Linked DNA regions of Homo sapiens: region 2 is linked to region 1. Evidence: fine-mapped expression QTL. A gene starts in region 1. The other region holds a variant in brackets. All regions are shown on one strand. Distances are from middle to middle.

The links. PIP is the estimated chance that this variant, and not a neighbour inherited with it, causes the effect. A credible set is the group of variants that fine-mapping cannot tell apart.
Region 2: its variant is the best candidate, but not a certain one, in a credible set for the expression of NEK1 in whole blood (INTERVAL, PIP 0.85).

What each region holds. Positions count from the first base shown.
Region 1 is chr4:169,610,422-169,614,820 of GRCh38, reverse strand. NEK1 (NIMA related kinase 1) reads left to right here and starts at 2,238. Exons shown (of 36, transcript NM_001199397.3): 1 at 2,238-2,599; 2 at 2,678-2,801. RefSeq lists enhancers at 2,166-2,225, 2,646-2,765.
Region 2 is chr4:169,287,106-169,291,504 of GRCh38, reverse strand. All of the region lies in intron 2 of LOC105377529 (a long non-coding RNA gene), which reads left to right. Among named protein-coding and RNA genes, the nearest start is that of SH3RF1, 18 kb to the right of the region's middle. RefSeq lists a silencer at 1,002-1,166. The variant G/A (reference allele first, on the strand shown) is at 2,245.

The DNA of each region.
Region 1 (4,399 bases):
TACTTTTCGAAATCTATCCCACAGAAGTAATTATACCATTGGAAACAATATGTCTACTGAATGGAGTAGATTTTGGTATAGCCATATCATGAAATATCAATATCATTCACAAGAATTAGTTGATATCCGCATAGATGTTCATATACTATTAAATTTAAAAATGTACGTTGCAAAATAATATGTATACTATAGTCCCGGCTAGGCACAGTGGCTCACGCCTGTAATCCCAGCACTTTGGGAGGCCAAAGCAGGCAGAATTACTTGAGCTCAGGAGTTCAAAACCAGCCTGAGCAACATGGTAGAACCCATCTCTACAAAACACACACACAAGAAGCCTGGGCAACATGGCAAAAACCCTATCTCTACAAAAAAAATACCGAAATTAGCCAGGTGTGATGGCACGCACCCATGGTCCCAGCTGCTCGGGAGGCTGAAGTGGGAGAATCACTTGAGCCTGGAAGGCGGAGGTTGCAGGGAGCTAAGATCGCGCCACTGCACTCCAGCTTGGGAAACAGAATGAGACCCTGTCTCCAAAATAAATAAGTAAATAAAAGACTAAGACTAATATATAAAATATAAAAATGCATGCTTATGTTTTTAGGAACTTAGAGAAAAATGTAGATGATATTAATTAACTGTTAACATTGGTTTCGTGGAGGACAGCACAGAAGAGCTCTGGGAAGGAGACGATAGGCTTTATCTTTGTGTACTTGTGTTACTGGCTTGTTGCAAGAAGCAAAAACTTTTTTGTTTGAAAGAAAAGTCCAATAAAATATTTAAAGAAAAAGAAACCCCAAAGCACTCTTGTTTAAAAATAAAAAAAAAAATCAATTGTACAGGGGTATATAAACCAGAAAGGGAAATCAGGTAATCTTCTTAGGTAACCTGCTTTATTTACTCATCAATATATCAATGGTATCTTTGTATGTCAATAAAGTAGATCTTGATTACTCTTTTAAATGGCTTTAGAGTATTTCATTGTTTGGATATATTATAATTTAATCAATTCTTTATTGTTATACATTTACAGTATTTCTAGTTTTTCTGGTTATAAACAATAACGGTTATCCTTGTATATAAATCATTGCTCACTTGTTCCAGAAGTTAAATTGCTGAGTCAAAGGATATGCATACTGCTAGCATACCTTCTAGAAAGACTGTAGCAGTTTGTAGTCCTACCAATAGTTTATGACATGAGCCTAAAGAATTATCTAAGGAGGTTAGCTGACTAGCCATTCTTCCTGTAAGCAGCAAAAAGAATTTGCTTAGATTAGTAATTGGCAACATTTCACTTCACTTTGATGTACAAAAGGATGTGGGTAGAACTACAATTGTGCATTCAGACATGATAATTCCTACTAACTGGGGGTAGGAGGGCCCACAGGAGTGTAGACTAGAAGTAGAAAGAATGAGGAAAATAAGTCTTTTGTAGCTGTATGGCGATTGAAGAGGAGATAAAACAAACTCTCCAGCTTTTCAGGTTGGGTGACTTGCAGCGCCATCGTCTGGCAAAGCCGCCAAAATCTTTCAATGTCCCTAGGAATAAAGTTGCCCTGAGTAGGGCCACTCAGGATGACGCCAGATGATATCCCTTATTATAGTTTTAGGGGAATCTCTTCCTACCTTCGCCAGTCCTGCAGTGAAAAAATGTACTTAGACTGCTGTACATTTCCAAACCCTTCAACATACAGACAAGTAATTTATACATACATTAGATGTAAAGGTGTAGAAAACCCCATACAGCTTTTTAAAAATATCTCAAGACTTAAACATTCTTCTGTTTCAACCATCCAAGATATAATAGGAAAAGACTTGCTTTTTAAAGCAAAATTGCTCTTTAAAATGTGGCATCCCTAAGTAGTGCGCTTTCATGTAAAATAAAAAAGTCCCTTTCTCGGTGTAGTAGCTGTGGGAAAATTTTATATGCTTTATATTCCAAATTGGTTTCAACTAGTGAGTTCTCTCCCGCATCTCTGCATGACTCTTAACAGCTTTACACTCTCTCCATCCTTTTCATCTCTCCCGTCTCGTCCTTTCTGTCTTCCCGCCTGCAGAGCCCGCCCCTCCCGTCCCTTCGCACAGCACCCCGCCCGCCCCTTCGCACAGCACCCCGCCCGACCCTACGGTTCTAGCCCAGCCTCACTGCTCCTTCCCAGCCGCCTCCGCTGCGTGCCGCCTTCCACGCGCTGACGTCACACGCCAGCGCCGGTGACGCGCCGGCCGCTCTCCCTTAGTCCGCATTCGCTCCAGGGTTTTGGGACCCTAGGTTGCGGAGTCCTTACCCTACCCTGGCCTCTCGAGCAGTTGTCCCCATAACTCGGAATCTAGAGCCGCTGTTGCGAGGCAGGAGCACGTGGCAGTCAAGTAGCTTCCCAGTCCCGAACGCCGCCCGTCCCCACCCCGCCGTGGCCACTAGCAACGACCTCTGTGAAGTTGGAGAGGCGGTAACGGAGGCACTCCCCCTGCTGCACCCCGCCGTTTCTACGGGGCTCAGAAACCAGTTTGTTTGTTTCGTCGGGGTAGTGTCGACCTGTCTTACGGGCGTCGCCCGAGACAGGACGGAGTCAAACCCGTGGTATCAACTGAAGACGAGTGTCAGGTGTGGAGAGTCTCAGTGCCCCCTTTCAGTCTGGACTGTGAGCTGCTGCTGGTTAGACAGTCTTGGTTTCTCTTTCAGGATGTCATTTTCAAAATGCGGGATGGTACCTCTGCTTTATTAAGCCCCGTAGGAAGACTGCCACACCTAGACTGATGCTTATTAGTCATCACCGTTATTCCTACTAACGTCCTGTGTCACTGAGGTGAGTTCCACTTGGGGGAAGGAATGACATGCAAAATGGTAAAAATCATCCTGGAAATGAGATGTGCGTAGAACTGCTTATATTGAGATTACACAGATACCTTAAGTGTTTGCAGGGAAAATACCTTAATCTCATTTAAATGTTAATTCTCTAAGACACTCTGTATTAACAAAGCGATTCTTGGACATTACGGTATTTTTAAAAACTAGAGCGGTAATGGGATTAAAATAATAGGAATCTTAGTATGGATAAGCAAGCATTTGCATTGCTTATGTTGTGTCCAATCTTAAATTACTGATAAATTTTAATTAGGAAGCGAATATGAGTAGTAGTTAGCTGGTTACCCTGTAATCTTAGATTTCTGTTTCCATGATTTGACACAGTTTCCATATGTAAGGCATTAATTGTTGTACTACTTTAAGAGTTTATCATAACTTTTTTTGCAGGCCTATTTTTTGTTCTTTAAGATCTGCTTTAGGAAGCAGAAATATTTTTTATTGCCTTGGTATGTTTCATTAGAAATGTTTATGAAGGATTAAAAGTGGCATCCAATCTAAGTTAATGACCTTTTTTTATGATGCAGCAGTATTGTAGAGCTGATGGAGGGGAGCCAAATTTGGAGAGAAGTAACTCCTTGTTTCTAGTTTACATTTGTCTGGTTTTAGAGGTTCTACAGATCTGTTTCACTTAAAATATCCATTGTTCTAGGTGAAATGTAAGGAGCCTATTTTGTGGGAAAACAGGTTTTTTTCACGTTAAAAGTCACTGTCAGGAATTTAATAAAGGTCGTCGGACTTGACCACAGAAGTTCTTTTGAGGTCGTGTGAATAGTACATTGACATTGTATTCCAAGTAAATTTTGCCCTGTCTAATCTCCTGCCTTCTAGTCTAAGTCATGAACATGACACCTTTTCACGAATGTACATTCTTTATTTACCTGTTGGTAGTTTCTACTACAAAATCTGTTGAATATTGTCTGAATAGACTTACAGAGAAGAAAAAATATTTTGAAAAAAGTCTAATAGAAATTCCATTTTTGCTTTCTGCTTTTTCGAATAAAGGAAGATAAAGAACTTTTTTCCTGAGAAGATAAATGGATCCCCTCCCACTATTCAAGATGGTATTTATTGCTTAGGCAGAACTGTATGTATGGATTGTAGCTGCATACAGCGCCAAAAGACTTCTTGAAACCTGTTGCCATGCCTTTACCATGTTTCCCTTCAAGACAGCCTGTCTATAGAATATCTGAAACACCTGATGAGAGCTTAATGCTTAACCTAAGTATGTGTTCCAGATTGATCGAAGTTGAGCTTTTCCATTCATATACTCTAAAATTGTTTATATGTGGCTCACAAAATTTTATTATGTCCAAAATTGCTTATTTGTGGCTTTAAAGAAATTCTTAGTGGCTGGGTGCTGTGGCTCTTACCTGTAATCCCAGCAGTTTGGGAGGCCACGGTGGGTGGATCACTTGAGGTCAGGAGGTTGAGACAAGCCTGGCTGACCTGGCGAACCCATATCTACCAAAAATACAAAAAATTAGACGGGCGTGGTGGTGCGTGCCTGTAATCCCAGCTACTTGGAAGGCTAACACAGGA
Region 2 (4,399 bases), 320 kb after region 1:
TTACAACTAAGAGAAAATTAACCTTTGTAGCTAAGGAAACTGGGGAGCAGAGAAGATAAGATAAGCATTTTCCAGCTGAGGACTTGTCTGTCTACAGGATCAGAGACCATGGAGCCTCCTGTACTCAAGAGATAGCTGCTGCTGAAGACCTGGCCCCAGGTGAATAACATAGGCAAAGGAACAACAAAGCCAGAATGGGGAAGAGTGAGCAGAGCATCCAGAAATGGCGGTTGCCAGCAAAATAGAACTGCTGAAAAAGGGCATGGCAACTTGAACAGAAAAAGTAATTAGTGCAATTGAGGAGCTTCAATTACAGCGTTAAACTGGAACTCAAGAACATGATTTTTTAAGTTTAAAAATATAGCAGATGTACTGAAAAAGTGTATGGTAACTATTGAGAAGTGAACAGAGGTCTGGAAGTACAAGGGAAAGAAATCTCTCAAAAAAGCAAACATTTAAAGTCAGACATCAAAAAAGCAAATATAAAGGAACCAGAAGATGGATCTAGAAGTTGTAACTTGTAAATAAATAGGAATTTCAGAAGAGTAAAGCAATCGAAGGAGGAGAGACAATATTTAAACAAACAGGTGAAGAAAATTTTACAGAGCTAAAGAAAGAGTTTCATCCTCAGAATTCTTTGAGTTTCAAGGAACAGGGGATGAAAACCGGAACACACTAGAGATTCCATTACTGTGTTGTAATTCCAAGGGTAATGACAAAGTTCTACAGTCTTCTAGATAGAAAGAACAAATTGTTTACATAGAAAAAGATTAAGACTGGCTTTAGATTTCTAACTACAACTTTAATATCAGAAAGTAGTAGGATAATAACTAGTGGCAACTGACGGTGTGATTTAAAAATCAAAACCCAAACACATATTACTTAAGAAACCCACGTTAGGCCAGGCACTGTGGCTCACACCTGTAATCGTAGCATTTTGGGAGGCTGAGGCGGGCGGATCACTGGAGATCAGGAGTTCAAGACCAGCCTGGCCAACATGGCAAAACCCTGTCTCTACTAAAAATACAAAAATTAGCTGGGCGTGGTGGCACATGCCTGTAATCCCAGCTACTCAGGAGGCTGAGGCAGGAGAATCACTTGGACCCAGGAGGCAGAGGTTGCAGTGAGCCCAGATCATGTCATTGCACTCCAGCCTGGGTGATAGAGGGAGACTCCGCCTCAAACAAACAAACAAACAAACAAAAGAAACTCACTTTAAACAAAGTGAGAAAGAAAAGTTAAACTTCAGAGGATATGTAAAAAGATACTGCCGGGCACGGTGGCTCACGCCTGTAATCCTAGCACTTTGGGAGGCCAAGGCGGGTGGATCACCTGAGGTTAGGAGTTCGAAACCAGCCTGGCCAACATGGTGAAACCCCTTCTCTACTAAAAATACAAAAAAATTATACAGGTGTGGTGCAGGCACCTGTAATCCCAGCTCCTTGGGAGGCTGAAGCAGGAGAATCGCTTGAAGGCAGACGTTGCAGTGAGCTGAAATCGTGCCACTGCACTCCAGCCTGGGCAACAGAGCGAGACTCCATCTCAAAAAAAAAAAAAGATCCACCAGATAAATATAAATCAAAAGAAGTCAAGTCTAGCGGTCCTATTAGCGGTCCAAACAGCATGCATATTAATATGTAATGACAAAAGGCAAATTGATAACAGAGGTATAACAATCATAAGTCATGTTCACCAATCATTGTAGTAGCTAAACATATAAAGCATAATCTTTATGTTAGGAGATTTTAACACACCTTTTTCAGACTCACATATATCTAACAGACAAAATAAATAGAAACAGAAGAATAGAATAAAACAAACAACAAATTTGACCTAAAACATGTATGGAATGTTACATTTCATAACTATATTTCTTTTGTGTTTTAATGGAACATTTACAAAAGTTAATCTTGTTTTTGTTTCCAAAGGATATCTAAGTCAATATACAGGAGTAGAGATTTTATAGGCCACATTCCCTGATTATAATCCAAAAAAGAAAATAAAAGGAGTAAGTAATGAAAAGGGATACCCCTCAAAAAACCCTCTAATTACTTGAAAATTAAGAAAAAATATTCTAGGCCAGGTGCGGTGGCTCACTCCTATTATCCCAGCACTTTGGGAGGCTGAGGTGGATGGATCACTTGAGGCCAGGAGTTTGAGACCAGCCTGGGCAACATAGTGAAACCCCATCTTTACTAATACAGAAAGAAAAAAAGAAAAAAAAAATTAGCTGTGTGTGGTGGT[G/A]CGTGCTTGCAGTCCCAGCTACTTGGGAGGCTGAGGCATGAGAATAGCTGGAACCCAGGAGGCAGAGGTTGCAGTGAGCTGAGATTGTGCCACTGTACTCCAACCTGGGTGACAGAGCGAGACTCTGTCTCAAAAAAAAAAAGAAGAAAGAAACAATATTCTAAATAACTCTTATCAAAATGTAAACAAAACTGAAATTACAAACCATATACAAAGCAATGAGGAAAAAGTTCATACCAAAATATACACAACATAGTTCAAATTATTCCTATGGGAATTCATAGCCTTAAATATTTTATTATTAAGGAAAAAATTTAGGCCAGGCACAGTGGCTCACCCCTGTAATCCCAGCACTTCGGGAGGCCAAGGCAGGCAGATCACTTGAGGTCAGGAGTTTGAGACCAGCTTGGCCAGTATGGTGAAACCCTGCCTCTTCAACAAATACAAAAATTAGCCAGGCATGATGGTTGAACCAGGAGTCAGAGGTTGCGGTGAGTCGAGATCGTGCCACTGCACTCCAGCCTGGGTGACAGAGTGAGACTCTGTCTCAAAAAAAAAGGAAAAAAAGTTAAAAAATATTTAAGGTCCAGTTAAAAAATTTAGAACAAGAACACCAAAATAAACAAAACATAAATTTGGAAGAGAGAATAAAGATGAAAATTAATGAACAGAAAACAAAGTATAAAGGGGAAATAAATCTAAAAGCTGATTCTTATGTAAGACTCCCCCAAAGAGATAAAATTTCAGGGAAATCTCCAAAGGCTCAACTGCCGCACACCAAGAAAGAACTAGAATTTGAAAATGTGATGTGAGAGAGGTCATATGACAGGCAAGAGAAAAGTGCAAACAGTGCTGCTGGCGTGCCTTCTTCCCCGCCCCCACACTGCCCACCCCAACTCTGGAGGAGCCTTGTGGGGGTGATATGGTTTGGCTCTGTGTCCCAACCCAAATCTCATCTCTAATTTGTAATCCCCATGTGTAGAGGGAGGGAGGTGACTGGATCGGGGGGCAGTTTCCCCATGCTGTTCTCATGATAGTGAGTGAGTTCTCATGTGATCTGGTGGTTTTACAAGGGGCTCTTCCCCCTTCGCTTTCTCCTGCCACCTTGTGAAGAAGGTGTCTGCTTCCCCTTCCACCATGATTATAAGTTTCCTGAGGCCTCCCCAGCCATGCAGAACTGTGAGTCAATTAAACTTCCTTCCTTTATAAATTACCCAGTCTCGGGTAGTATCTTTATAGCAGTGTGAAAACAGACTAATACAGGGGGGCAGGTAGGTAACAGGAGCAATCAGACCCCTCCTAGCCAGTGGCATGGAAGGTAGTGAATCAGGCCTGAGCTAGGGAGAGAGGATAAACTTTGAATTGGATGAGATACTGAGGTTTTACTTTAGGTTGGATGGAACTACATAATCTAAAAATGGTAGTGTTGTTAGAATCTGAAGTGACTGAAAAACTCATGGGATCTATCGGAAAAGTCACCAAGAGCAAGGAAAATGTTTCTGACAAAAAATGCTTGAGGCAAGAGTGGAAGAAAACAAAGCTGTTCCCTGACTACACCCTATTAAGCCCGGCTAAGTCAATAAGCCTGTTGTTACACCTGTGTTTCTGGCTATCATTTTCCTTCACTGGACTGGGAGAAATTAAGCATCAAAATTATGAATTAATGATAGTAACACATATAGTCCTTTGAAGGAAATTAAGAACCATGAGTACATATTGGTACATATAAATATATGAATAAATTAAAAGTTTGATAAGAGAGTATTTACTTAGTTTCAAAGTACTTCCTGAAAGAATACTAGAGAAAGAAAACATAAATTCATGCTGGAGAAGAAGAAAAGACATCATCTTAAATAAGCTATCAAATTGGACAACAAATCCAAGGCATGTGCCATCTGACACGAGGAATACAATGTTGCTTCTTGCTTCATTGAATTTTTTTCCAAAGGTGCATAATTTGAATCTAATAATGAGGAATATTTTCAAACCCAAATTCTACAATATATCTGGCCTATAAACTTAAAAAGAATTCAAGAATGAGAAATAATTTCCAAGTTGAAGAAAATTAAAGACACATGAGAAAGAAATGCAATGTGTGCTTCTGAATGGGATGGCTTTTTTCTCTTAAAGCAGGGGTCCCCTACCCCTAGGGGCC